Regions from separate parts of the Homo sapiens genome. Here region 1 is linked to region 2. Evidence: fine-mapped expression QTL. A gene starts in region 2. The other region holds a variant in brackets. All regions are shown on one strand. Distances are from middle to middle.

Region 1 (13,817 bases), 600 kb before region 2:
GACCAGCCTGGGCAACATGGCAAAACCCCATCTCTACAAAAATTAGCCAGGCATGGTGGTGCACGCCTGTGGTCCCTCCCAGCTACTTGGGAGAATGAGATGGGAGGCTCACTTGAGCCCAGGAGGTAAAGGTTGTGAATGAGCTGAGATAGCACCTCTGTACTCCAGCCTGGGTGACAGAGTGAGACCCTGTCTCAAAGAAAAAAAATTAAATATATCTATTGTTTAGGAAATAATGATAAGAAAAAAAGTCTGTACATGTTCAGCACAGATGCAATTTTGGTTTTGAATATTTTTGATGCAAAGTTGGTTAAACCCACAGATGCTGTGGACTAGACTAGGAAGTGCTAGGCATACACAGTATTTGTTGACTAGTGGCTGCACAGATTTATATACAGACATACCCGCCCCCACAACAATACTCAAATACATCACATTAATAGACAAATATACAGATGTGGGCAAAAATACCTGCCCGCACATTCACAGAACACACTAAACAGTCACAAAGACACCCAGGAGTCCCTTTTCCATCCCCATAGGAGTCAGTCCTAGTCCTCCCCCATCTAGATCTGCCCTCTACTTGAACCCAGTCTCGGGACTGGGGGAGTAGGGGTCTGCAGCCCGGACAGGGAGAGGGTCGCTGGCCCACAGGCCTCAGGCAGCGCCTTCAGCTATGTCTGCAATTTCCTCTCCCCCTTTCCTCCTCCTCTCTAAGGCTCCCGCCAAGGCGGCCTCCCCCTCATTCTAGCTCCAGCAAGGGAGGGGAGGTCCATGATGGGGGGGCCCCGTGGAGACAGGGCAGAAGGAAGCCCCCCGCCACACACACTGATCACACACCACATTGCATGCACAAGCCCAGGTGGGAAATGCGTGTGTGAGCACAGGCAGGTTTAGCCTTGGGGTGGGGGACGGGATGGGGTGGGATCTGCCACAAGCCGCCACAAGCTGCTTGGTGCACAAGAGCGCAGGAGCTCGCAGGCACAGAGGCCCCACGCTGGGGTCTGCGAGACTGCTGGCCGGGCCCTGGCTCAAAGCTGGAGTCCAACAATCATTAACCCTGCGTGACTAGACCAGAGCTCGGCCAGGGGACACATTCAAGCCTGGGCCCTGGAAGGAGGGGTGGACAGTCCCCTCCCTTCCAGTCCAGCATGGGTCTGGGGAAGAGAAGCAGCTTTGCCTGGAAGGGGCCTCCTAGGAGGGGGAGCGGTGGTTTCTAGCTCAGGCTTTAGGATCAGAGAGCAGCAGATTCAAATCCTGACGGTTTTGGTAAAGTCAATTCAATCTCTCCAAGACTCCGTTTATTTGATCTGCGAAGTGGGGATAATGGTATCACGTCGCAGGGTTGTCAGGCGGAGTAAGTGAAAGAACCTGTCCAAGGTTTAGCCCTTGGCCCGCACGCAGGCAGAGCTCCAGCCTCTCTGTTGTTGCTGTTAGTGGCCTGGGGGCGGGTCCCTGCCGCGGCCTCCCCGGCGGTTTCCTGTGGGGGACGGACGGCCCGCGGGCCGGGCTCTCCCTCCTCCCGGCTGCCCGCTCCTCTCCCCTTCCTCTCCCAGCCCTTTTCCTCCCCGCCTCCCCGCCCGCCCCGCCCCGCCCCGTCCCTCCTCTTTCCTCGGAGGAAACTTTCCGCCGGCTGGTCCCTCGGTCCGTGTCCCGCCCGTGCTGCCGCGGCCTGGGAGCCCAGCGGGGCCGGAGGGGCGGCGGGACCCGAGCGGGCGGGGGCGGCCGGACCCAGTGTATGCGGCCGCGGGACGCGCTGGGGCCGGGCAGCCGGGAAGCGGGGCGCTGACGGTGAGTGGGCCTGGCCCCGGGCCGGTGGGTCCCCGCGGGGCGGCCGGGCGAGGAGAGAGGCAGCTTCCCTTCCCGGAGCCCGCCTGGGGCGTGGAGGCTCAGCGTCCCTATCCTCCATCCCGCCCCGGGACGGCGGAACCGGGCCTCAGCTGGGGACCTCACCAGGGGGCGGGGCCTCCCGCGGTCCCCGGCGCTGCTCCCAGGACTGGAGGGGCGTCCGCGCCCGGGAGAGGGGTTCCCCCCGACAGGGCCCCGGGCCGCCACGAAGTTAGGGAAGCGCTCTCTCCAGGGTGGAACCTGGGCCCGCGGCTCCCGGGAGAGGAGCTGCCCGCGGAAGGGGTCGGGGTGGGCTCCAGGCTGGGAGAAGGATCTGACTTTGCTGACCTCGCAGGCTGGTAGGGGAGCTGCCCCCCAGAGCAGCATGGATGCCCCGCGAAGGGACATGGAGTTGCTCAGCAACAGCCTGGCTGCCTACGCGCACATCCGCGGTGAGGGCGGGCGCCGGAAGACTGGGGGCCTGAACCCTTCCCTGACCACCATCCCCTTCCCTCCCCAGCGCCTTGTCCGTCCCCTCCGCCCCGCTCCCCGCCCTCTTGCCCGCTGGCGGTTCCCTAATGCCCTTCGAGTAGGGGTTACAGGCCTCGCCCCCACACCTAGAACCTGGGGTCTTTCGGAAGTGGGACAACCCCCACCCGTCCGGGCCTCTCCGTGACCCCCGCCCTGTGCCCCGCAGCCAACCCCGAGAGCTTCGGCCTCTACTTCGTGCTGGGCGTCTGCTTCGGCCTGCTGCTCACCCTCTGCCTGCTCGTCATCAGCATCTCGTGGGCGCCCCGCCCGCGGCCCCGGGGCCCGGCTCAGCGCCGGGACCCCCGCAGCAGCACCCTGGAGCCCGAGGACGACGACGAGGACGAGGAGGACACGGTGACTCGGCTGGGCCCCGACGACACGCTGCCGGGCCCCGAGCTGTCCGCAGAGCCGGACGGGCCCCTCAACGTCAACGTCTTCACGTCGGCGGAGGAGCTGGAGCGGGCGCAGCGGCTGGAGGAGCGCGAACGGATCCTGCGGGAGATCTGGCGCACCGGGCAGCCGGACCTGCTGGGCACAGGCACGCTGGGGCCCAGCCCCACGGCCACGGGCACCCTGGGCCGCATGCACTATTACTGATGGGCCCCGGCTCCCGCTGCAAGGCGCTCGGGGTACCGGACCTGCACATGAGCTCAGAGCTACCCCACACCTTCGGACTGCCTCGGCCCCCACAGCTCCCAGGTGCTACTGGGCGTGGACCGCCACCCCCTGAGAGGCTCCCTTCCCCAGTCCTGCCAGAAGACCCCGGGGGCGGGGAGGGGGCAGCATGCAGGGTCCCCACTCCCTCTCTGGGGTCGATGAAGAGGTGAAGTGACCAAATGAAAGAAAGCTGCATTCTCAGTGACTCAGTCTCTCCCTCTGTTACTCCTGCCCCCAGCGACCCCCAGGCTCCTGCCACGCAGGGGCCCCAGGACTGAGGCCCAGCTTGACTCCCTTACCCTAGCTGCACCACCCCCACCCACCAACCCGACGATACAGCACACCTGCCCGCATTCACTTCACAGCCAGCAGAAAAGCAGAAGCCCACAGGCCTGCACCCAGCCTCACACACAGAGCAAGCGCGCGCGCATTCCTTATTCAAAACGCATTCCTTACCGGCAAACGCCTGGACACACGTCGCCCTGTCCCCACAGTGCCCTGGGTTCATACACTGCAATGACACACACACCAGGCCTCAGGACCCTGACCTCGAGGCTAAGGTGCTGCTAGCCCCGGTGTAAGCATGCGTGCTTGGGCTGGACGGTGGACTTCACGTCTGCGCCGAGGTGCGTTCAAGCGAGAGGGCAGGAGTCCCTCTGAGCGGACAGGGAGGCCAGCTGGGAGGGGTCCGAGCTGGCGAGAAGGCCCGCCCGGCTCCTCCCCGGCGCACAGCTGGATTCCGGAATCTAGGCCGGGCGTCAAGAGCCCGACCCCGCCTGGGCCCCTCCTGCCCGCCATTTCTCCAG[T/G]GCGCGGCTGGAGTCCGAAGGAGACACCCTCCCCCGCCCCTCACCATCCGGTGGATAAAAATAGCCGCGCGCAGGCCTTGGGAACGGTAATGGGAGCCACATGTTGGCCAGATGTGCCTGGGAGGGACCGTCAGGAATGCGGAGGCCCAGGCCCTGCCCCCGCGCAGGCCCCGCCCCCAGCGACCAGACCGGCGTGGCGCCGTGCTAGGCAGAGTTTACTTTCTCGCGTTTCCCAAAGTCGTGTGCAAGGACGTGGGTGGCCCCAGCCAGGTCAGGCCGCGGTCCCTTCCCAGGCCCACCCTCAGTAGGTCTGCGTCTGCGTGTGGATGACGCGCGGGGTCTGGGACTTCTGGGTCCCCTGCATCACCTGGACCTGGTCGGGAGTGAGGTGGAGACTTTGTCAGGGGGCCACTCGCCGTCAGCCCCCTCCCGCCGGGACCCGCGCCTCACCTCCAGCCGCCGGCGCTGCTCCTTCTCGCTCTTCAGCTCCTCCCAGATGTCGGTCAGCTTCCTCCTGCGGGCCGAGGCGGAGGTGAGGGGCTGGGCAGGTGAGGGCTGGAGGTGAGGGGCTGCGCAGGTGAGGGCTAGGGGGAACCCTACCTTCCACAACCCCCGCCACTGCCCACTCACTCCAGCTGCACCTCCATCAGCTCCAGCGCCCTCCTTAGAGACTCCACCTCGCCCCTCAGCGACGTTACATCAACTCCTTCATTCTTGTTTTCCGTGTAGTTTTGCGGGACCAGCGAGGGGAGCGCGAGCGTCTCTTGGGAGTCTGGAGGCGGCTTGATAGGACGTGTTTTTTGGGCAAAGGCTCTTTCTATGGGGGGCACCTCCTCTTTTGGAGCCACTTCCTCTTTAGGGGGCAATTCCTCTTTCAGGGTCACCTCCTCTTTGGAAGCCACTCCCTCTTTGGGGAGCACCTCCTCTCTCAGAGGCCTCTGCTCGTTGGGGGGCGCCTCCTCTTCAGGGGTCCTCTCGTCATTGGAAGGTGCCTCCTCTGGAAGGGTTGTAGCCTCTTCGTGGGGGTGGGGCTTCTCAAGGGCAGGCCTGGATGCTGGCCCAGACTTCAACTCAGCCTGGCGTGGGGAGCTGTCCCCTCTAACTAGGGTACATTTCATCTCTCCCAGGCACCTCTCTGAGGAAGGAGGCTGGGGTGGGGGTGCCTCTGGCGTGTGGGCCTCCTCCTGGGATGATGGATCCTCTTTGGCTACAAAGTACTTGACCTTCTGCAGGGCTTCCTCCGAAGAGAAGTGATGGAATTGAATGTCATCTCTGGTGGACACCTCTTCTTCAGAAAGCTCTGGGGTCAAGACCTTTTCTAGAGTGGGGGCCTCATCCCCCAGAGGGGCCATCTTTGGATTAGGGACTTTATCCATAGGTGGGGCTTCTAGGGCAGGGGACTCTTCCACTGAAAAGACCCTCTCTGGAGTGGAGGGTTTGTCCACAGTCAGGGTCTCCTCTGGGATGATGGAGTTCTCTGGGATAGAAGCCTTGTCCTCCGGAGTCACCATCTTCTCTGGGGTGGGGACTTTGTCAGGAGCTGGGATCTTCCCCGAGGTGGAGTTCCCTGGGATAGAGGCCTTGTCCCCTAGAGTGAGGGTCTTCTCTGGGGAGGGGACTTTGTCAGGAGCCGGGATCTTCTTGGAGCTGGGGGCGTTCTCTGGAGCTGGGGGCCTCTCTGGGGTGGCAGTCTTGTCCGGCATGGGGGTTCTCTTCACAGAGGGGGCCTTTACCGGGCTGCTGTGCTCTTCCTCCTGCCGTGATGGGAGGTGAAGTCTCAGCTGAGGTTGAGTCTGGTTCCCCTTGGCCTGGGAGACTTCACCCGTGCACACCACAGCTGGGAACCAGCCTCTGCCCAGCATCCCCACTCTCCCATGTCTCCCGCCCCTCACCTGACTGGACACAGAGCGTTGCTGGGGAGTCTGGGTTTTGGATCGCTTTCGGCCAGGGTGATACGAACCCCCACTTTGGAAGCCACCATTGGGGCCTAAGAGAGCAGAACCTCAGGGACCCAAGCCTACTCTGACCCTCAGTCTCTTCCCACCTCTGTCCCTCCGCACAGCCACCCCATCCCTGTCCTCCAGTCCTCCCCGCACTGGAGGAAGGCAGCCCTTGCCTGAGTCTCGGGAGGTGAGCTTCTGACTGTCCCTGCTGGGTGTCCGAGATGTCCTGGAACATATCTTCATCAGGCCCTCAGGGTGGGGCACAGGGAGGGGCGTTGCCTCCTACCCTCCTCCTTCCCCCAACCCCATCCTGCTCCTTACTTGGCTTTGCTGGGCCCAGTGGTGGCTGTTGCTAGCTTCTTGACTGTGGGGAGGGATGTTTTGGGCATCAACTTTTTTGGTTCCTTAATAGGAGCTGGGAAGAGAGGAGTGGAGCACTCATCCATCTGACAGTCGCTAGCCCTGTCTTGTGCTGTGTGCAGGGGACTATGGGCAGGAGGTTAATCTTGTTTGACTATGCGCCACTGCACCCGGCTAATTTTTGTATTATTATTATTATTATTATTATTATTATTATTATTATTATTTGAGATGGAGTCTTGCTTCTGTCGCCCAGTGGTGCGATCTCGGCTCACTGCAAGCTCTGCCTCCCTGGTTCACGCCATTCTTCTGCCTCAGCCTCCCGAATAGCTGAGACTACAGGTGCCCTCCACCACACCCGGCTAATTTCTTTTTGTATTTTTAGTAGAGATGGGGTTTCACCGTGTTAGCCATGATGGTCTCATCTCCTGATCTCGTGATCCACCTGCCTTGGCCTCCCAAAGTGCTGGGATTACAGGTGTGAGCCACTGCGCCCGGCCAATTTTTGTATTTTTAGTAGAGACGGGGTTTCACCATGTTGGCCAGGCTGGTCTCGAACTCCTGACCTCAAGTGACCCAGCCTGCCTCAGGCCTCCCAAAGTGCTGGCATTACAGGTGTGAGCCATCGCGCCCAGCCCACTCTCAGAATTCTTTATATTCTCTCTCATTTACTCTCTAAGAGATCTCACCCAGTCTTATGGGTTTAATTTTCATCAATAAGTCAATGACTCCCAAATTTTCATCTCTAGCTCCTTCCTCTCTGACTCCAGACTCATATCTGACTTCCCTCTCAATATTTACACTTGGAGAGCTGATGGGCATCACACTCTTAACATATCCCAAACCAATCTCTTGCTTCCCAAACCCATGCCCCTTGAACCTACCCCTTTCCCCACAGTCCCCATCTGGCTCATTTACCCACTTGTTTGGATGACAAATGACTCCTTTTATTTCCTTATGAGACACATCCAAACCATCAGCAAATCCTGTCCACACTACTGTCCAAATATTTCCTGAAGTCAATCACTTGTCACCACCTCCACCACTAAGTGCTCTAGATCAAGTCACCACCACCTTCACCTGGACATTCCAACAGCCTCCAACCTGGGATTTGGCTGTACCCATCCCACCTAGAGTGTGTTCTTCCCACAGCAGCCAGACTGAACTTGTGTTCTATTGGGGAAGCAGATATAAATACAAGGAGTAAAATACATAGTGTGTTAGAGAGTTATTAAGCGTGACTGACAAGACTAGGCAGAAGGGGCTAGGCGCGGTGGCCCACACCTGTAATCCCGGCACTTTGAGAGTCCAAGGTAGGCAGATCACTTGAGGTCAGGAGTTCAGGACCAGCCTGGTCAACATGGTGAAACCCCGTCTCTACTAAAAATACAAAAATTAGCCAGGCATGGTGGCGTGCGCCTGTAATCCCAGCTACTCCGGAGGCTGAGGCAGGAAAATCGCTTGAACCTGGGAGGGCAGAGGTTACAGTGAGCCAAGATCGCGCCACTGGACTCCAGCCTGGGCGACAAGAGTTAAACTCCGTCTCAAAAAAACAAAACAAAAAAACACTAGGCAGAGGAAGGAACCATTTTAAATGGGGTGGCCAGAGAAGGGCACACTAAGGTGACATCAGCATCACTTGAAGGCAGTTACACACAGTGACATTCAGATCCATAGAAAAACAGCCACTCTGGCATGTGCACAAGTGCTGATGTTAACTCCTACATATAATCACACGCAGATACGTATACAAATCCACAAATCTGACAGTGGTTGGGGGCATGGATCCCACAGCCAGACACCAGGCTCTGAATTTCAGCTCCACTCCTTGCTAGTTGTATGAGAACTTGCTAAGTGATCTATGCCTCAATGTCCTCATTCATAAAACATGGACAACTAACACACACCTTGTAGGGTGGTTGTGAGGTCTGAGTGACTTAATACATGCGAGGTGCTTAGAAGACTGTTTGGCAGCCAGATGGTCAAAGCTCAGTAAATGTTAACTTTGACTTCTTACATTCTTACAGTATGGCTGATTAGGTGCTCTGTAGGGTGCTCCCACTAGGAAGCAATTATATCCTGCTGAGGACACAATTTTGAGGCACCATTGGACTTAAAAGAGGTAAAGGAGGTCTACAAAAGAGAGGACTGGACTGGGTGCAGTGGCTCACACCTGTAATCCCAGCACTCCCAGTGGCTCACGCCTGTAATCCCAGTGCTTTCAGTCCCAGCTACGTGGGGGGCTGAGGCAGGAGAATCACTTGAACCTGGGAGGCGGAGATTGCAGTGAGCCAAATCACGCCATTGCACTCCAGCCTGGGTAACAAGAGCAAAACTCAGTCTCCAAAAAAAAAAAAAAAAAGAGAGAGAACTGAAGCCAGAAAGGCGGAGGGAGGGAGGGCAGCTCTGCTCTGTGGCTACTGAGCCTGGGCCCTGTGATGTGAAGCCAGGGCCTTGGGCTCTGCTCCCTCACCTCACCACAGGCCCCAAGCTCAGTACCACACAGCAGTGCTACCTTTCTTCAGGAGGACCGAAGCAGCTTCTGGTGGGTGGTGTTCTCTGGCTACTGGGAGAAGTAAAAGCAAATTCTCGGCCAGGCGCGGTGGCTCACGCCTGTAATCCCAACACTTTGGGAGACCGAGGCAAGTGGATCACCTGAGGTCAGGAGTTCGAGACCAGCCTGGCCAACATGGTGAAACCTCATCTCTACTAAAACTACAAAAATTAGCCAGGCGTGGTGGCGCGTGCCTGTAATCCCAGCTACTGGGGAGGCTGAAGCACGAGAATTGCTTGAACCCGGAAGGAGGAGGTTGCAGTGAGCTGAGATCGCATCATTGCACTCCAGCCTAGGCGACAGAGCGAGACTTCATCTCAAAACAAAACAAAACAAAACAAAAAATAAAAGCAAATTCTCGCTGGAAGAAGTCTTCTTCTACTAAGGCCTGCAAGAGTCCCACAGATTAAAATCCAGCTATCAGCTCATAAATAAAGGTCATAAAACACGCTAGAGGGCAGGTCACCAAGAATGGAGTCAGCAGACACAACACACAACAGATAGTGGAACTGTCAGGTAGAGAACACTGCATAGATACGTATAAAACATTTGAAGAAGTTCAGGATGTGCATGCAACAAAGGACAATCAGGAATAACCATGCAGGTTTGGAAAATTATCACACAGAAAATGGAATTACTAGAGATGAAAAATAGCATTCTTGAAAAAGAAATGCAACATAAATCCACTTATTTACATGTATATTGCTTATGTTACTGGTACAGGGTTACAGAGCAGAGTAAACAGAGCCAAAAGGCTAGAGAATTTGTAAACTAGAGGTGCAGTGAGACAAGGAATGAACAGCGTGACAGCAATGTTAGGAGGGAGGAATGACAGAAGCAGGATTTGGCTCTGGCTGAATGAGGTGGTGGACAAATCCTCTCTTCACAAGGCAACTATGAAGCTGGACAAAAATGATCCAACAGGCCGGGTGCAGTGGTTCACGCCTGTAATCCCAGCACTTTGGGAGGCCGAGGTGGGCGGATCACCTGAGGTCAGGAGTTCGAGACCAGCCTGGCCAACATGGTGAAACCCCCTCTCTACAAAAATAAAAAAATTAGCCGGGCATGATGTTGGGTGCCTGTAATCCCAGCTACTCAGAAGGCTAAGGCGGGAGAATCGCTTGAACCCAGGAGGCAGGGGTTGCAGTGAGCTGAGATCATGCCATTACACTCCAGCCTGGGAGACAGAGCGAGACTCCTTCCCCCCGCAAAAGAAAAAGAAAAATCCAACAACCATTTCAATGCTCTGGAAATTATCCAAAGGCATGAGATAATTTGCGAAGGATTTTTTTTTTTGAGACAGAGTCTCGCTCTGTCACCTAGGCTGGAGTGCAGTGGCGTGATCTTGGCTCACTACAACCTCCACCTCACAGGTTCAAGCGATTCTTGTGCCTCAGCCTCCCAGATAGTTGGGATGACAGGTGCCCGCCACCACGCCCTGCTAATTTTTGTATTTTTTGGTAGAGACAGGGTTTCGCCATGCTGGTCAGGCTGTTCTCAAACTCCTGACCTCAAGCAATCTGCCCGCCTCAGCCTCCCAAAGTGCTGGGATAATTTGCAGAGCATTTTGTATGCTTGATAATGTTCTTGCCTAGGGCCGTTTTCATCCCAGGCCCCTCAGCTTGGTCCACATGGATGTTCTGCAGGGTAGGGCAAACTGTGAGGATCAGCAGCTTAACTGGCTAAGTTGAAGGCAGCTCAATTTGGAGTGTAATCTTGGGATTTGACATTGGTTCAAAAGCACAGCCAACCAAAAAAATAGATAAATGGGACTTCATCAAAATTTAAAACTTTTGTACATCAAGGGACACCATCGAAGAAAGTGAAAAGACAACCTAAAGAATGAGAGAAAAACTTTGGGAGGCCGAGGTGGGTGGATCACAAGGTCAGGAGTTCAAGACCACCTGGGAAACATGGCAAAACCCCATCTCTACTAAAAATACAAAAAATTAGCCGGGTGTGGTGGCGCACGCCTGTCATCCTAGCTACTTGGGAGGCTGAGGCAGGAAAATCGCTTGAACCCAGGAGGCAGAGGTTACAGTGAGCTGAGATCATGCCACTGCACTCCAGCCTGGGTGACAGAGCAAGACTAAAAAAAAAAAAAAAAGAATGGGAGAAAATATTGCAAACCATATATATATATACGCATATATATGATTAGGGACTTTTATCTAGAATATATAGAGAACTCTTCCTCAATAGTAAAAAGACAAATAATCCAATTTTTTAAATGGGCAAAGGATCCAAACAGACATTTCTCCAAAAGAAATAAGCACATGAAAATATGCTCAGCATCGGGCCGGGCGCGGTGGCTCACGCTTGTAATCCCAGCACTTTGGGAGGCCAAAGCGGGTGAATCACGAGGTCAGGAGATCGAGACCATCCTGGCTAACACAGTGAAACCCCGTCTCTACTAAAAATACAAAAAATTAGCTGGGTGTGGTGGCGGGCGCCTGTAGTCCCAGCTACTCGGAGAGGCTGAGGCAGGAGAATGGCGTGAACCCGGGAGGCAGAGCTTGCAGTGAGCCAAGATCGCACCACTGCACTCCAGCCTGGGTGACAGAGCGAGACTCCGTCTCAAAAAAAAAAAAAAAAAAAAGAAAATATGTTCAGCATCATTAGCCATCAGAGAAATGCAAATCAAAGCCACAATGAGATACCACTTCATACCCACTAGGACAGTTGTCATTAAAAAGATAACAAAAACAGCTGAGTGAAGTGCCTCACAACTGTAATCCCAGTATTTTGGGAGGCCAAGGCAGGAGGATCACTTGAGCACAGGAGTTCAATATCAGCCTGGGCAACATAGCAAGACCTTTTCTTTACAATAAACTTAAAAACTAGCCAGGTGTGGTGGTGCACACCTATAGTCCTAGCTACTCGGGAGGCTGAAGTGGGAGGATCACTTGAGGTTTGAGGCTGCTGTGAGCTCCCATTGTGCCACCACACTCCAGCCTAGGCAACACAGCAAGACCCTGTCTCTCCAAAATAAAAGAGTATACTATGAACAACTTTATGCAAATAATTAGAAAACTTACATAAAATAGTTAAAAACACGTAACTCCACAATTGATTCAAGAATTTTACCCTGACTTTTCTTTAACTATTAAAGAAATTGAAGAAGTTGTTTAAAATAATCCCATAATGAAAAAAAATATGGCAAGATGAATTTACAGACAAGTTTTACCAGCTTGCAAGGAAAGATGATTCCCATCTTATTTATTTATTTATTTATTTATTTATTGTGAGACAGAGTCTCACTCTGTCACCCAGGCTGGAGTGCAGTGACGCGATCTCGGCTCACTGCAACCTCTGCCTCCTGGGTGAACAAGCAATTCTCCTGTCTCAGCTTCCCGAGTAGCTGGGACTACAGGCATGTGCCACCATGCCTGGCTAATTTTTTGTATTTTTAGTAGAGACGGGGTTTCACCGTGTTAGCCAAGATGGTCTCCGTCTCTTGACCCCATGATCCACCCGCCTCAGCCTCCCAAAGTGCTGGGATTACAGGCGTAAGCCACCAAGCCTGGCCCATTCCCATCTTATATAAGATCCACCAGATAGGCCAGGTGTGGTGGCTCACATCTGTAATCCCAGCACTTTGGGAGGCCAAGCCGGGCAGACCACAAAGTCAGGAGTTCGAGACCAGCCTGGCCAACATGGTGAAACCCTGTCTCTACTAAAAATACAAAAAAATTTAGCTGGATGTGGTGGTGCACACCTGTAGTCCCAGCTACTTGGGAGGCTGCAGCAGGAGAATTGCTTGAACCCGGGAGATGGAGGTTGCAGTGAGCTGAGATCGCGCCACTGCACTCCAACCTAGGTGACAGAATGCGACTCTGTCTCAAAAGACAGTAAAAAGAAGAAAAGGGAAAACTAGATTCAAAATCAGGAACATGACAATGATGTTCACCATCACTACTTCTATTTAATATTGTATGAGAGATCCTAATAACTACAATAAATTAACAAAATGAAATTAAAAGGCAGGAGTGAAGAGAATGACACAAAAATTATTATTCACAAATGATATGTCTGTCTTCACAGGAAACTTGTAAGAACCTACAAATGAATTGCTGGAAATAATCAGAGTTTAGCACCATGGCTGGCTATAAAAACAATATACAAAAATCAATGCATTTCTGTATTCCTGCAATAAACAGAAGAATGTCTATTTTTTAAAAGACACAATAAAAACTCTGAGATACCTAAGAATATCTGGGAATAAATCTTATGAAAATTATGGTCTTATGGCCGTGTGCGGTGGCTCACGCCTGTAATCCCAGCACTTTGGGAGGCCAAGGCGGACGGATCATGAGGTCAGGAGATCAAGACCATCCTGGCTAACATGGTGAAACCCGTCTCTACTAAAAATACAAAAAATTAGCCGGGCGTGGTAGCGGGCGTCTGTAGTCCCAGCAACTCGGGAGGCTGAGGCAGCAGAATGGCATGAACCCGGGAGGCGGAGCTTGCAGTGAGCCGAGATCTCACCACTGCACTCCAGCCTGAGTGACAAAGCAAGACTCTGTCTCAAAAAAAATTTAAAAAAAAAGAAAATTATAGTTTTATGTATAAAACTAAGCCAGGCACCGTGGCTGACACCTCTAATCCCAGCACTTTGGGAGGCCAAGACAGGAGAATTGCTTGAGCCCAGGAGTTCGAGACCAGCCTGGGCAACACAGTGAGACCCCATCTCTACAAAAAGATTAAAAGATTAGCTGCACATGGTGGCTTGTACCTGTAGTACCAGCTACAAGAGAGGCTGAGGTGAAAGAATCGCTTAAGCCCAGGAGGTTGAAGCTGCAATGAGCTACAATTGCCACTGTACTCTAACCAGGGCAACAAAGACCCAATGACCCTTTCTCAAAAAAAAAAGAAACCCCCCAAATTGTATAAAACTCACATGTAGAAAATAATAAATGATGCTGGAACAACTCATTGTCCATAGGGAAAAAGGTATAATTGTATCACTCATTAAAATCACTACTACATGAATAAAAGCACTAATATAAAAAGCAACATTTTAAAGGTTTTAGGCCGGGCACGATGGCTCATGCCTGTAATCCCAGCACTTTGGGAGGCCAAGGCGGGCGGATCGTGAGGTCAGGAGATTGAGACCATCCTGGCTAACACGGTGAAACC
Region 2 (14,869 bases):
AATGATTTGATTTGCCTAAGTTCCCAAAGCCATGTGGGGAAGTTGACAGATGATGTGACCTCAGGAAGAGAGAAGAAAGCAGGTTAGCAACGTAGTTTGTAATCCAGGATCGTGCTTTGTTCTGATATGGAAACTCTGAGGGCTTCCTCAGTTACTTCCCTGCTGTCCCCAGGATGGAGCCCAAGCTCCTTGGGATGGTGTCAAGAACTTTCACAACTGGGCCAACTTTATCTTCTAGCCTCACCTTACCTCCATTTCCCACCGAGCTCCAGCCACACTGGCCTACGGGGTGTTTCCTGAACTCACTCTGAAAATGCAGTCTCCTATGCCTTCTCTTGCTTTCTCTTGGTGAGCTCTTATTCATCCCTCAAGGCCTGGCTCAAATATCACCTCTGTGCTAGCTGGGTTTAGTGGCTCATGCCTGTAATCCCAGAATGTTGGGAGGCCAAGGTGGGAGGATCACTTAAGGTTGGGAGTTCGAGACCAGCCTGGGTAACATAGCAAGACTCCCATCTCTTAAAATAAAAAAAATCACCTCTGTGAAGCCTTTCCTTACCCTTTTCTGGGCTTACTACTTTTGCCTCCTGGCTCTGTTGCAGGGCCCATTACATTGTTATAGCCCACTCTTCTGTCTATTCCTTTTCTTTGAGACAGGGTCTGGCTCTGTCACCCAGGCTAGAGTGCCGTGGTGTGATCTTGGCTCACTGCAACCTCTGCCTCCCAAGTTCAAGCAGTTCTCGTGCCTCAGCCTCCCAAGTAGCTGGGATTACAGGCGTGTGCCACCATGCCCGGCTAATTTTTGTATTTTTAGTAGAGACGGGGTTTCACCATGTTGATCAGGCTGGTCTCAAACTCCTAGCCTCCAGTGATCTGTCCGCTTCGGCCTCCCAAAGTGCTGGAATTACAGGCATGAGCCAACACACCATGACTTCTGTTTCCCTTTCTAAACAAGGAGCTCCCCAAGACCACGACCAGTTCTGATTCTGCTCTGAATTCCCAACACAGTACCTGGCACAAAGTAAGCACTCTGTAACTGTATGATACATGTAAATGAATGGGTGGGAAGGGACAAGGTCTTTGAAGCTGAAACACCTTGATCTTACCCACCCCTTTCTTCCTGAGAATACTGATATTGAGAAATTATCCACCTATGAATAACCCTTAGGCCTGTCCTATTTCCTGGATGAGAAATTCCTCTCATCTTCTCTGGTCTCCTTGCCTGACACCCCAGGCCCTGGGACCTGGATCTGGCTACTCACTGCTAGCCTCTCTTGGCTCTGACATCTGTTTGCCAAGAGGCTTACCCGCTGTCCATCATTGGGTCTTGATGGCATGGCCTTTTGCAAAGCCCTGTTCAGGCTGATACTGGCCATCTCTGGAGGTTTCTGTGTCCTTGCCACTTAAGTTCCTGGCATATATGTGGGTAGGTGAACCCAGCCACAGATACCCTTTCACTTGGGGGTGAATTATTCTCTGGTGTCCTCACTGGAAAAGCCTCTGGCAAATGAATAACAGGCATCTCTATAGCTGCTTTTTTGTCTTCCTGTGGACATGGACATCCCTGCATTTGGAGCTTTTTTTTCTTCAGGTTTTGAGCTCTGAAAATTATGGAGTGACCAGGACTGCTGTGTGAGCACTGACTGTATTAATTATACAGTGCTAGAATATTCCATACAACACTGCCCTTGATTAACAAAACTGGCTACAGGCTGGGTGTGGTGGTTCACGCCTGTAATCCCAACACTTTGGGAGGCCGAGGTGGGCAGATCACTTGAGGCCAGGAATTTGAGACCAGCCTGGGCAACATAGTGAAACCCTGTCTCTATTAGAAATACAAAAATTAGCCGGTGCAGTGGCACACGCCTGTAGTCTCAGCTACTCAGGAGGCTGAGGCATGAGAATCGCTTGATCCTGGGAGGCGGACGTTGCAATGAATGGAGATTGCACCACTGTACTCCAGCCTGGGCAACAGAGTAAGACTCCGTCTCAGGGAAAAAAAAAAGAAAGAGAGAGACTACAATCTGATTTCCTTTAAATGAATTCACTTGACTTAGCAGGTATTGTATTATTTAGGAATAACTAGCTTTAGGCCAGGTGTGGTGGCTCACGCCTGAAATCCTAGCACTTTGGGAGGCCAAGGCAGGCAGATCACCTGATGTCAGGAGTTTGAGACCAGCCTGGTCAACATGGTGAAATCCTGCCTCTACTAAAAATACAAACATTCACCAGGTGGCGGGCACCTGTAGTCCCAGCTACTCAGGAGGTTGAGGCAGGAGAATTGCTTGAACCCAGGACGTGGAGGTTGTAGTGAGCCAAGACTATGCCACTGCACTCTAGCCTGGGTGACAGAGAGAGACTCCATCTCAAAAAAAAAAAAAAAAAAAGGAATAACTAGCTTTTTAGAACAATGGAATTGATGACTCAGCTATTCCAGGCTGGGGTGCTGCCCTGCAGAGCACGATATAGGCTTTATTTATTTTATTTTAATTTTTTTTTTTTGAGACAGGGTCTTACTCTATCGCCCAGGCTGGAGTGCAGTGGCACGATCTTGGCTCACTGCAATCTCTGCCTCTTGGGTTCAAGCGATTCTCCTGCTTCAGCCTCCTGAATAGCTGGGATTACAGACGCGCACCACCATGCCTGTCTAATTTTTGTATTTTTAGTAGAAACGGGGTTTCATCATGTTGGCCAAGCTTGTCTCGAATTCCCAGCCTCAAGTGATCCGCCTGCCTCGGCCTCCCAAAGTGCTGGGATTACAGGTGTGAGCCACCACACCAGGCCCAATATAGGCTTTAAATCAATGTATATAATGCTTTGTCCTTTGTGGCCAGAATGCATAACAAGAAGAGGTAGCGGTGGTTGTGGCACCTTATATGATTTACCTAAGGACTAAGAGTTTTCTTCCTGTCTCTGAGATTCTGGGTATTGCAGGTCAGAAGGTGATAGCATCGGCCAGGCACAGTGGCTCACACCTGTAATCCCAGCACTTTGGGAGGTCAAGGCGGGCAGATCATTTGAGGTCAGGAATTTGAAATCAGCCTGACCAACATGGTGAAACCCTGTCTCTACTAAAAATACAAAAATTAGCCGGGTGTGGTGGCACGCGCCTGTAACCCCAGCTACTCGGGAGGCTGAGGCAGGAGAATGACTTGAACCTGGGAGGCGGAGGTTGCAGTGAGCTGAGATCGCGCCACTGCACTCCAGCCTGGGTGACAGTGAAACTCTGTCTTGGGAAAAAAACAAAACAAAACATGGTGATAGCATCATGGGAGGAATGTTTCTTCTAACCAAGAAACACAAAGATGATTCCCTGGGATTTCGGCTCCTGGTAGCACTAGAGGAATAGGAGAAGGGGGTGGTCTCAGTGTAGACTGGACTGATCATGGCTACCAAGGAGAAAGGGAGTTACTGTTACCTAATAAGTGTTGAGAGGTGCGTGAATGGAACCCAGAGACCCTGGGGTCACCACCTTGTGCTATTGTAGTAATCAGCATTCTTTCAATTGTCGGTGAAAGAAATTCCACTCAAGTTAGGCTTGGCAAAATAAGGCATACAAAACTATAAGTTTAGATGCAGGAAACAGGGTCTGCAACATTATCAGAACTATCTCTCATCTCTGTTTCTTCCCTGCCTCGTCTTCCTTTAATTTCGTTTCAGAAGATCCCAGAGAAGGACTCTGACTGGCTCACCTGGAGTGGAGCTCCTATCCCTGGATTCTTCAGGCTTTCATTTGACCCACATGGTTAAGCTGGGAGAGACAGAGTCCAAAGAGAGGCGGAGAAGGGCTATTCTGGGCAGAACAAACAATTGATGACTTTATGGCTCTGTGGTCTGGGCAGAACTGCATAACCCTAGATCACCAAAGCTGAGAGCCTTTAGGAGTGAGGATTTGGGCCAGGCATGGTGGCTCACGCCTGTAATCCCAGCACTTTGGGAGGCCGAGGTGGGTGGATCACAAGGTCAGGAGATCAAGACCAACCTGACCAACATGGTGAAACCCCATCTCTACTAAAAATACAAAAATTAGCTGACGTGATGCATGCACCTGTAATCCCAGCTACTCAGGAGGCTGAGGCAGGAGAATCGCTTGAACCCGGGAGGTGGAGGTTGCGGTGAGCCGAGATTGCGCCACTGCACTCCAGCCTAGGCGACAGAGCGAGACTCCATCTCAAAAAAAAAAAAAAAAAAAAAAAAAGTGAGGATTTGGGTCACCCCAGGCTGAAGGCCAGGGGAACCTGAAGTGGATAAGGGAAGGGAGAAGACTTAGGCCACAGGATCTGATGTAGAAATGGGGCTGACGTCTCCACCTGTATTTTCTTAGCTGGAGGAGTGTGCAAAGTTTGAATTACTTCTGCCTTCTCCTTCTTATTTCCTTTTCCCTTTTAAAATAGTCATCATAATCATAAAAATTTCTTTTCCATTTTCCCTGTTTTTGCATATAGGATTTCTTGGTGTGATTTAATTTGCCAATTAGTCTCTAGGTTGCAGAATGGTGACTTGGAATCAAATTGAAACTGGAAGAGGGCACCTCATATATTAGGGTCAGCAATTACTGAACTCTGTTCTCTTTTATTCCAAACAGGGCCCCCAACTTCACATTTCCCCAGGGTGCAAAAGAGTGAGGGGGGTCAAGCTTCAGTAGAGTGGAGCTCTGAGAAGAATCCACTGGAGTTTGGAACCCAAGACCCTTTTTTATCACGCTGTTCCTCCTCACCTGGGCAAAAGCACTGGTACCCACTTCACAGGCATCATGGGTGGGCTCTGTGTCCTGCGGAGAGCCCCCGTCCCGGGTACAGGACATCAGCCCTGAGCCCTGTCCCAGGCTTGGATCTTCTTTCTCTCTCTCTCTTTTTTTTTTTTTTTTTTTTTTTTTTTTTGAGACGGAGTCCCACTCTGTTGCCCAGACTGGAGTGCAGTGGTGCAGTCTTGGCTCACTGCAACCTCCACCTCCCAGGTTCAAGCGATTCTCCTGCCTCAGCCTCCCAAGTAGCTGGGATTACAGGCGCCCGCCACCAAGCCCGGCTAATTTTTGTATTTTTAGTAGAGATGGGGTTTCACCATGTTGGCCAGGCTGGTCTCAAACTCCTGACCTCAGGTTATCTGCCCGCCTCGGCCTCCCAAAGTGCTGGGGTTACAGGCGTGAGCCACCGCACCCGGCCTCAGTGACTTTAGTCAAGTAAGCACAAAAAGGAATATATAATTCCAAATTGTGATAAATGCTATGAAGAAAAGGAATGTGCTCTGACATAAAGGGGGGAACGAACGTGATCTAGGGAGTCAGAGATCTCTCCGAGAAGAGATCTGAAATAGGAGTAAGTCGAGAGGGGGAAGAGAATGCTAGACCGAGGGAACAGTGCGTGCCAAAGCCGCGTGGCGGAAAGGGGCGTGTGGGAGGGTAACTGCGGAGAGGGAGGGTAGAGGACGAAGCCGGAGAGGCAGACGAAGGGCAGGACGCACAGAGCCCCGCGGCTACCGCCTTAGGGGTTGTCCCGGCGGTGGGGAAGCCATTGAGGAGTTTAACGCCGGAAGGTGGTGACTAATCAGATTTCACTTGAAAATGGCACGGTGTCTGCAGCGAGGCTAACTGATGGGAAGGGCCCAGCGAATGCCAATAGGAGAGAGCACCGGACCTGGAAGGCCTGGGTCAACGCGGCCCCGCGCGGGGGCGAAGCGGTTCCGGCGCAGGGGCCTGGCGCGGGGCTCCGCGGAAAACCGAACCGGCCCACGTGGGACCGGTCGCTCCGCCCTGCTGCGCAGACGCCGCCTGACTCCGCAGTCCGGGACTGGGGCTGGGCGCGCTGCCCGGGAGCCCCGCACCCACGCCTGGACCGCGGAGACGCCCAGGCCGAGGAACCCCCAGCCCAGGGACTAGACACCACCAGGGCCGGGCGGAGCCAGAGCCAGACGCGCCGGAGCGGGCGCCTCTACGCCGTGAGTCCGAGTCTGGGGCCCGAGGCGGGGTGGGGCTTGGGGCTCAGCCGCGGGAAGCGGGGAGTCACAGTGGCCTCCTTCGAGGAGACTAGGGAAGGATGGTCTCTGTCTCCTGGGGTGGTCTCCCACTCCCGCAAGGCCAGAAAAGGAGGCTGCCTCCTGTTTGGGCGGAGACCTAGTCCTGGCGTGTCGGGGTTCTCATTTTACTATCTCTGAGAACCCTGTGATCCCTAGCGCCACCCCCACCCCATCCCAGCTTCCTTCACGGCCCCATCCAAGTATAGGAAAAATAAAAAATTGGGGCGAGGGGAGATCTCTAGGCACCTTCCCACAAGCCTTGCTTAGAGGGCGATTAGAAACGAACTGTTCCTACACCCTTCTCCCCAGGACTTCTCTGCCCATTGCTGGGGGTGGGGAGGGTCCATGCCACCTATGGAGCGCCTTCCAGTGCCGGCTCCACTTACAATACCCTTCCTCTTCATGCTCTTCAATTGTTCTAATCCCAGTGCTGTTTGGTCAGTAGAATCCCTTTGTCAGTTCAAATCCTAATTTTGGTTAGAAGCAGGTTATGGAGGAGAGAAGAGTGGTGTGGTATGCCCTCCCTCCAGGGCCTCAGAATGGAGCAAGCTAGGGACGGGGACCGCAAGATAGTGGCTGTGTTCCAGAGGCATTGGGAGGGAAGGGGGCAGGCTCAGAAGAAAAGCTTGTCACTGGGGAAGGCGGGGCTCCCTGGCTGGGGTAGGAAAGGGAACCAAACCCAGCTCTTCCAGAACCCAGCTCTTCCAGCCCTGGGGAGTCAAGAGTGGATTCCTGAGCATGGAAATTCACTGCAGTCTCTTCTCCCATTCACTCACTTAGCAAGTACCTGTATGCACAGACAGCCTGGTTCAGGGCTCTATGCTGGCTGACTCTGGGGAATATGATGGAGGATATATACAGGAGGTCCAAGCCAGATTACAAACTGCTATTACAAGATCATTACCACAAACCAAAAATGCCAGTTGAATAGACATTCACTGATCGTCGACCATGTATGCCAGGGACGGATGCAAAGTTGGATAAGACAGTGTATACCCAGCGCAGTGGGGACCCAGAGGAAGGCATAACTAACCGTGCTTGTTTATGTAATATTGATTGGGGCAGTATCAAGACGGCTTCAGAGACATGGGGACATGGAAACATGGGGATATTACAGCTAATTTTGAAGTACAAAAAGGAATTTGCTGGGTGGAGAAGGGAGGAGCTTTGAGGGGAGGGGAGAGGAAGGATATTGTAGGCCAAAGGAATACTGTAAGAAAAACAATGGTGTGTTTTGAGATCTCTGGGCAGTTTGCTATGATGGGAGGGGCAGAGTGGCAAGAGGCAGGTATGGAGGGGTGAGCAGGGGCCAGATCAAACAGGGTGTTGTAGGCCAGGTAGAGGTTTAGCAGGAATTCAGGGAGGGCATTAGGAGTGGTGACAAGTGAAATTTACATTTTTAACTGGAGGCAGAGAGATCAGTGAAAAGGCCGAGGCAATAATCCAGGTCAGAAATGGCCTGGAAGAGGAAGAATGGTCAGAATGTGGTTATTAATGAGATGGGAGAAGGAAGGATAGTGAGGACCCCAGGATGCTCTCAGCTTTCTGGATGGAGTACAGAGCCATCTTGCTGAGGATACTGAAGGAGAGCTTGTTTGGTTATGTAGAATTTTGGCGGGGGGCGGTGGTGGAGGGGGATGATGTCACTCTGTCACCCAGGCTGGAGTGCAGTGGCGCAATCTCGGCTCACTGAAACCTCTGCCTCCTGGGTTCAAGTGATTCCCCTGCCTCAGCCTCCCAAATAGCTGGGATTACAGGTGCCTGTCACCATGCCTGGCTAATTTTTGTATTTTTAGTAGAGATGGGGTTTCACCATGTTGGCCAGTCTAGTCTCGAACTCCTGACCTCAGGTGATCTGCCTGCCTCGGCCTCCCAAAGTGCTGGGATTACAGGTATGAGCCACCATGCCTGGACTGGTTATGTAGAATTTGAGGAGACTATGGTTGGTTGCAGGGTTGGATAGCAGTTGGATCTGGGCTGAAGACAGATCTGAGAGTCACCAGCATATGATGGTCTTTGAAGCTACAGCAGAGAATGAGGTCCTCTGGAGAGAAATGCACAAAATCAGAAGACAGCCTGGCTCTGAGGACGGAGGAAAAACCCTTTGCAGGAGACTGAGAATGAACAGGTAGACAGGGAGGACGAAAACCACGAAGGGAAGTGTTACCAGAGTCAAGAGAAAGGGCTTGACAGGGAGTGGCCAGGCTCTTGCTTGCAGCCTTGTCCCTGCAGCTAAGTTGCCCTGACTTCAGGCACCCCACCCTGTCCTACTGTGACTCGGTCTCCTGCTTTCCCTTTACAGGCTAGATGTTCGCCATCCAGCCAGGGCTAGCTGAGGGGGGCCAATTCCTGGGGGACCCACCTCCTGGATTATGTCAGCCCGAGCTCCAACCAGACAGCAACTCCAACTTCATGGCAAGTGCCAAGGATGCTAACGAGAATTGGCATGGGATGCCAGGCAGAGTGGAACCTATCCTGAGGAGGAGCTCCTCTGAGTCACCCTCTGACAACCAAGCCTTCCAGGCCCCTGGATCCCCTGAGGAAGGGGTGCGCAGCCCCCCAGAGGGGGCAGAGATTCCCGGGGCTGAGCCTGAGAAGATGGGTGGTGCTGGCACAGTCTGCTCCCCTCTGGAGGACAACGGCTATGCCAGCAGTTCCCTGAGCATTGACAGCCGTAGCAGCAGTCCTGAGCCTGCCTGTGGGACCCCGCGAGGCCCTGGCCCTCCCGATCCCCTTCTGCCCTCAGTGGCCCAGGCTGTGCAGCACTTACAAGTCCAGGAGCGCTACAAAGAGCAGGAGAAGGAAAAGCACCACGTGCACTTGGTGATGTACCGTCGCCTGGCACTGCTCCAGTGGATCCGGGGCCTGCAGCATCAGTTGATTGACCAGCAGGCCCGACTGCAGGAGAGCTTCGACACCATCCTAGACAACCGGAAGGAGCTTATTCGCTGTCTCCAGCAGAGGGCAGCACCATCCAGGCCCCAGGACCAGGCCTAAGGGTGTGCCTCCACAAGTGTGCAAGGGTATATGTATATATTTGCAGGCATGTGTGAGGCGCACTAGTAAGTACATAATTTGCTGGCATGATTGCAGGTAGGCATGAGTGTGTATGTGCTAACATGTAGGCTGGTGTGTGTAGGCATGTGTGAATAAGCATGTATAAATGAGCTTAAGTGTGCTGTGTGCACATGTGTACACACAGCTAATTTATCTGCAGACCTATATGTGAGCATGTAAGAGTGAACATATGTGTGTGTGTGTAGTATGTAAGAATGAGGAACTCGGTATGTGCATGTGTAGACAGGTACCCAGCAGTGTGTGTATATGCGCATGAGTGAGGATGTATAGGCAGAAGATGTGTGTGTCTATGAGTGAGTTTGAGTGTGCAGGCTTGTATTAGGTGTATGTGAGGAAGCCCTTGTGTGTGCAGGGGTGCACATGTTTGGCCACAGGCATGGGAGGTGTATGTTAGGAGCATGTGTGTTTGTAGGCAGACTCATGAGCAGGTGTGTGCAAATACATATCCAGCTGCACTGTGGGTGTCCACCCACACCTTGTGTTCCTCATGGCCTACCCCAGCCTTTCTTCTCCACTGGGTCCCACTGTTCCCTGGAGACAGAGGGCTAGCATGCTGTCATTTATCTGAAGGTTGTGGCTGACCCATTCTCCTGGGATTTCCCAGGCCACCTCTCCTTTCCCTTTCCCTCACTTAACCCAGACTTGCTCAGCTGAGGCTATTGTCCCTGATGTTGGCTTTACTTGTAGGAGGTTTAGTGGCTGCTCTGGCCTGCCATGGAATTTTGGCTGCAATTTTGGCAGTGTGTGGAGAACTGGTATCAGGAAAGGGAACCAGGAGTAGTGATGAAGATGATGGTGGGGATGGGGACAGAGGACATAGGGGACTGTCCCTCTTGAACTCTGCCTTTGGGCACATGGGAGATGGGGACAGGAAAGATGATAACAGTGGAACCCTGTGAAGAATAGGAGAATGGGAATTCTAAAATACCAGTTCCCAAACAAACCATCTCTCCATTGGAAAAGGAGCTGTTGCAAACCGTGTTCATTTAAGCTTCTGATGAAAAGCAATGTATGTTTATAAGCTTGCAAGTAACAGACAAGATGTTCCAAGGCCGATGAGGAAAATATCGCTTCCCTGTCTCTGCCTCTACCTTGCTGTGCCTCTCTGGCTTTAGCAGCATTGGATGTTGAATTGGTTTGGTTCATTTCTCTGAAGTCGGACTGTCAGGAGGAGCCAGAGGTTGGCTTTCTGGGATGTGAAGGGGACAGTGTCAGCCTAAGCCTCTGGAGATGCTTAGGATGCTGAATTTTAACCCCTTCTTTCACTGCATGGCCCTTCAAACAGGGATTGGCAGGCTCCGCGAGTTACAGAGTGGGTGAGTCTTGGAGAGAACCAACGACTAAGGTAGCTTAGCTCTCTGCTTTGTTCTTGGGAGCCAAGAGAATGCAAGATCCTGGTGGGTGAGCAGTGGTATGAAGAGGGGACACTGGTGGGTGAACAGTGGCATGGAAGTCACTGATGCAGCCTCTGGCCCTCAGTCTCCCTATCGGCAAAGTGGGGGGCTCTTCCTATCTCTAAAGAGTTTCATCCCTGACAGGTGGATGGGTGAAAGATCCAGAGAGTGGGGGTGAGGGGTGGGCCCTGAAGACTTTTTGTCTGTAGCTCTTGCATATTGAGTGTATAAACCCGGCTTCTGGACCAACCCAAGATGAATAAACTGGGGCAGAAAATTACATTTCTTGAGTATGTGTTTTTCTTCTACCTGTTGTCTGATGGCCTCTTTTTCATACCATCTGAGCTCCCCTTTTGAGTAGGGTCCTGGACTAGGAGCTAGGGAGGTGGTTTTGGGGAAAGACACTGAAGAATTTAGACTGCTGTGCCTGGCGATCCAATGGGGTGGAGAAGTCTCTCAGGGGCCATCCAGTGTGACAGGGGAGACTTGACTTCTACCCTGAGAGCCCCATATGGGATTGTCCTTGTCCTGTGTCACCTTTGGGCCTAAATGAATTGCGAGGGACACATACCATACACACTCGTACATACTCAACTGTACCCTGGGCAGGGCACGGTGGCTCACACCTGTAATCCTAGCACTTTGGGAGGCTGAGATGGGTGGATCACCTGAGGTCAGGAGTTCAAGACCAGCCTGGCCAACATGGTGCCTGTCTCTACTAAAAATACAAAAATTAGCCAGACGTGGGGACGGGTGCCTGTAATCCCAGCTACTCAGTAGGCTGAGGCAGGAGAGTCGCTTGAACCTGGGAGGCAGAGGTTGCAGTGGGCAGAGATCGTGCCACTGCATTCCAGTCCGGGCAACAAGAGGGAAACTCCATCTCAAAAAACCAAATAAAACAAAAAATAAAACACCAAGTACCCTGGTGTCATCACTTCCCTGAAGGGCGCTCTGACTATGACTATGATTTCGGGTCCTTAGATGGTTTTGACACACATGTAGTTATAATATACAGTCATCCTTTGTTATCTGAGGGGATTGGTTCCAGGATCCCCAGGGATACCAAAATTCACAAATCTGAAATACTGTATTTTATTTTTATTTGATTTGATTCTTTATTTTTGGAGACAGCGTCTCCAAGATACGCCCAAGCTAGAGCATAGTGGTGCAATCATAGCTCACTGTACCCTTGAACTTCTGGGCTCAAGTGATCCTCCCACCTTAGCCTCTGAGTAGCTGGGACTACAGGCACACACCACCACACCCAGCTAATTCTTAAGTTTTTTGTAGTGATGGCTTCTTGCTATATTGCCCAGGCTGGTCTCAAACTCCTGGCTTCAAGCCATCCTCCCACCTGAGCCTCCCAAAGTGCTGGGATTACAGGTGTGAGCCACTGCGCCTGGCCAACATTTTTATTTTATTTTATTTTATTTTATTATTATTATTTTTTTGAGACGGAGTCTCACTGTGTTGCCCAAGCTGGAGTGCAGTGGCGCGATCTCGGCTCACTGCAAGCTCCGCCTTCCGGGTTCACACCATTCTCCTGCCTAAGCCTCACGAGTAGGTGGGACTACAGGCGCCCGCCACCGCGCCCAGCTAATTTTTTGTATTTTTAGTAGAGACAGGGTTTCACTGTGGTCTCAATATCCTGACCTCGTGATCTGCCCGCCTCGGCCTCCCAAAGTGCTGGGAGCCACTGTGCCTGGCAACATATTTATTTTAAACTTCACAAAGTATACTTCTCACTGAAACAGTTAATAATTCTTGTCATCTCCACACTTGACACTTAAACAGAAATAGTATTGAACCAATTTTTACAAATTCCACTTACTAAGAGATGTTTTGGCAAAGGGCTAAGGCTAAATTTGAATGGAGATTTCTGACAATAAGATGTCTGTCAAACCTTCAGAGCATAAGAGGGTGAATTTTTATAAGGAGCCTTTTTTTTTGGAGACAGTCTCACTCTGTTGCCCAGGCTGGAGTGCAGTGGTGTGATCTTGGCTCACTGCAACCTCCACCTCCTGGGTTCAAGCCATTCTCCTACCTCAGCCTCCCAAGCAGCTGGGACTACAGGCACATGCCACCACGCTTGGCTAATTTTTTGTATTTTTAGTAGAGATGGGTTTTTGCCATGTTGCCCAGGCTGGTCTCAAACTCCTGAGCTCGGGCAATCGGCCCACCTCAGCCTCCCAAAGTGCTGGGATTACAGACATGAGCCACCATGCCCGGCCAGGAGCCCCTTTTCTAAATGTGTGAGGGCTCTTTTGAACACAGCCCCTGGTGAAGGACAGAGACCCTGAAGCCAGACACCCTGGATTTGGACCTTGTCCCCATTGTTTTATGTTTTTGTGACCTTGGGCAAGTCAATTAACTTTTCTGTGCTTTAGTTTCCTCATCTTAAAATGGGAATAATAGTAATAACTACTTCGCAGGGTTGCTGCAAGGATTAAATATGTAATATATAGAAGACTTAGAATTGTACCTGACACATAGTAAGTTACATTAATGAATTATGATTATTATAAATCATACTTTTTTGGTACATACAGCTTTTTCATAGAAAAACATTTTTTCTTATGAAATTGGAATCTAAAAAAATTTTTTTTTTTTTTGAGACAGGGTCTGGCTCTGTCGCCCAGGCTGGAGTGTAGTGGTGTGATCTTGGCTCACTGCAACCTCCGCCTCCTGGGTTTGAGCAATTCTCATGCCTCAGCCTCCCGAGTAGCTGGGATTACAGGTATGCACCACCACGCCTGGCTAATTTTTTTGTATGTTTGGTAAAGATGGGGTTTTACCATGTTGGCCAGGCTGGTCTCTAATTCCTGGCCTCAAGTGATCCGCCTCAGCCTCCCCACCTGCTGGGATTACAGGTGTGAGCCATCGCACCTGGCTGAATCTAAAATTTGAATGTCATCTTTAAAGGGGAAGGGGACTTCTAAAAAATAAAGCTGCCTAATATTCCTTTCCAGAAAAGAACTCTTTGAGCTGAGAAAAAGAAGAAGGTGAGACCAAGGGAATGTGTGGTGAATTGTATGTTTACAGGACCCCTGCCAGTCACTGAAGGTCAGGGACTCCCCGGGGGATGATGGGTTTGGGAAGGAGATTGGCAAGAATAGAGCCACAGCCCAGGACGGCAGAGTTAGGGGCAGGGAAACGGAGGCAGGACTCCAGTGGCTGAACCAACTCAGCCAAGAATTGTGGTTCTCCATCAGGTCCACTGGCCACGAGGCCTAATCATGGGAAGTGCTAAGGTGACCACAGTACCTCCCATAGGCAGATCTGAGCTACACTCTCTATACTCAGTTTCCTCACCTGTGGCAACTATAAGGGCTGAATGAGGAAATGGACGTGAAGATGCTCTGTATGGATTAAGAAGATTGTGTGCCTCCCCTGCATGAGGCCCTGAGGAGCCTGCTCTTGTCTTTGAGAGCTGTGGTGTGCACAGGTAGATGAGACTTGCATCCAAAAGCCTAATGCAGGCTGGGCACAGTGGCTCATGTTTGTAATCCCAACACTTTGGGAGGTTGAGGCAGTAGGATGGCTTGAGCCAAGAGTTTAAGACTCCATCCCTACAAAAAGGGAAAAAAAATTAGTCAGTCATGGTGGTACATGCCTGTGGTCCTAGCCACTCAGGAGCCTGAGGCTGGAGGATCACTTCAGCCCAGGAATTTGAAGCTGCAGTGAGCTATGATCCCACCACTGCACTGAAGCCTGGGTGAGAGAGCAAGACCCTGTCTCAACCCCCTCCCCAACAAAAAGACCCCAAAAGCCTAATGCACAAGCCACTCGTAACCTAGGAGAGGGGAATGCAGGACTGGCTGTCTGTCTAGTTTTCAGTCAGGGACTTCTATACGTGGTTGTTGTCTTAAAGTCATTGGGCCAGGTGCGGTGGCTCATGCCTATAATCCCAGCATTTTGGGAGGCTGTGGCGGGTGGATCATTTGAGGTCAGGAGTTCGAGACCAGCTTGGCCAACATGGTGAGACCCTGTCTCTATGAAAAATATAAAAATCAGCTGGGCATGATAGTACATGCCTGTAATCCCAGCTACTCGGGAGGCTGAGGCAGGAGAATTGCTTGAATCTGGGAGGTGGAGGTTGCAGTGAGCCAAGATCGTGCCGCTGCACTCCAGCCTGGGTGACAGAGTGAGACTGTCTCAAAAAAAAAAAAAAAAAAAAAAGTCATTGGGGTAGGAATTCCTTAGTCCGTGGGACAGTGAGGGGAGTAGGAAAGGTTCATGCACTTGGTAGGAGTTTGGCCAGTCAGCTACCTCCACCCCTTCACCTCTCTCACCAGAATAAAATCCCAAGGAAGTCTAACCTAGGTTTTGGGTGCGACATGAGTCATCTTGCTTAGTAGGAGACATAGGGATGAGATTGGAGCAGAGAC

Evidence for each region. PIP is the estimated chance that this variant, and not a neighbour inherited with it, causes the effect.
Region 1: its variant is fine-mapped to the expression of C1orf216 in whole blood (INTERVAL, PIP 0.95).

The regions. Positions count from the first base shown.
Region 1 is chr1:36,311,433-36,325,249 of GRCh38, reverse strand. SH3D21 (SH3 domain containing 21) reads right to left here. Exons shown (of 16, transcript NM_001162530.2): 11 at 6,086-6,179; 12 at 5,938-5,990; 13 at 5,714-5,808; 14 at 4,452-5,575; 15 at 4,272-4,335; 16 at 3,903-4,194. The coding sequence ends at 4,123. EVA1B (eva-1 homolog B) reads left to right here and starts at 1,605. Exons shown (of 3, transcript NM_001304762.2): 1 at 1,605-1,791; 2 at 2,183-2,279; 3 at 2,525-3,220. The coding sequence starts at 2,213. The coding sequence ends at 2,955. RefSeq lists silencers at 1,338-1,567, 1,658-2,017, 2,078-2,127, 2,218-2,407 and enhancers at 1,452-2,336, 3,223-4,107. The variant T/G (reference allele first, on the strand shown) is at 3,822.
Region 2 is chr1:35,709,769-35,724,637 of GRCh38, reverse strand. C1orf216 (chromosome 1 open reading frame 216) reads left to right here and starts at 5,754. Exons shown (of 2, transcript NM_152374.2): 1 at 5,754-5,931; 2 at 8,312-10,761. The coding sequence starts at 8,317. The coding sequence ends at 9,006. It also overlaps a transcript of CLSPN not described here. RefSeq lists silencers at 3,636-3,930, 5,593-6,022 and an enhancer at 8,836-9,130.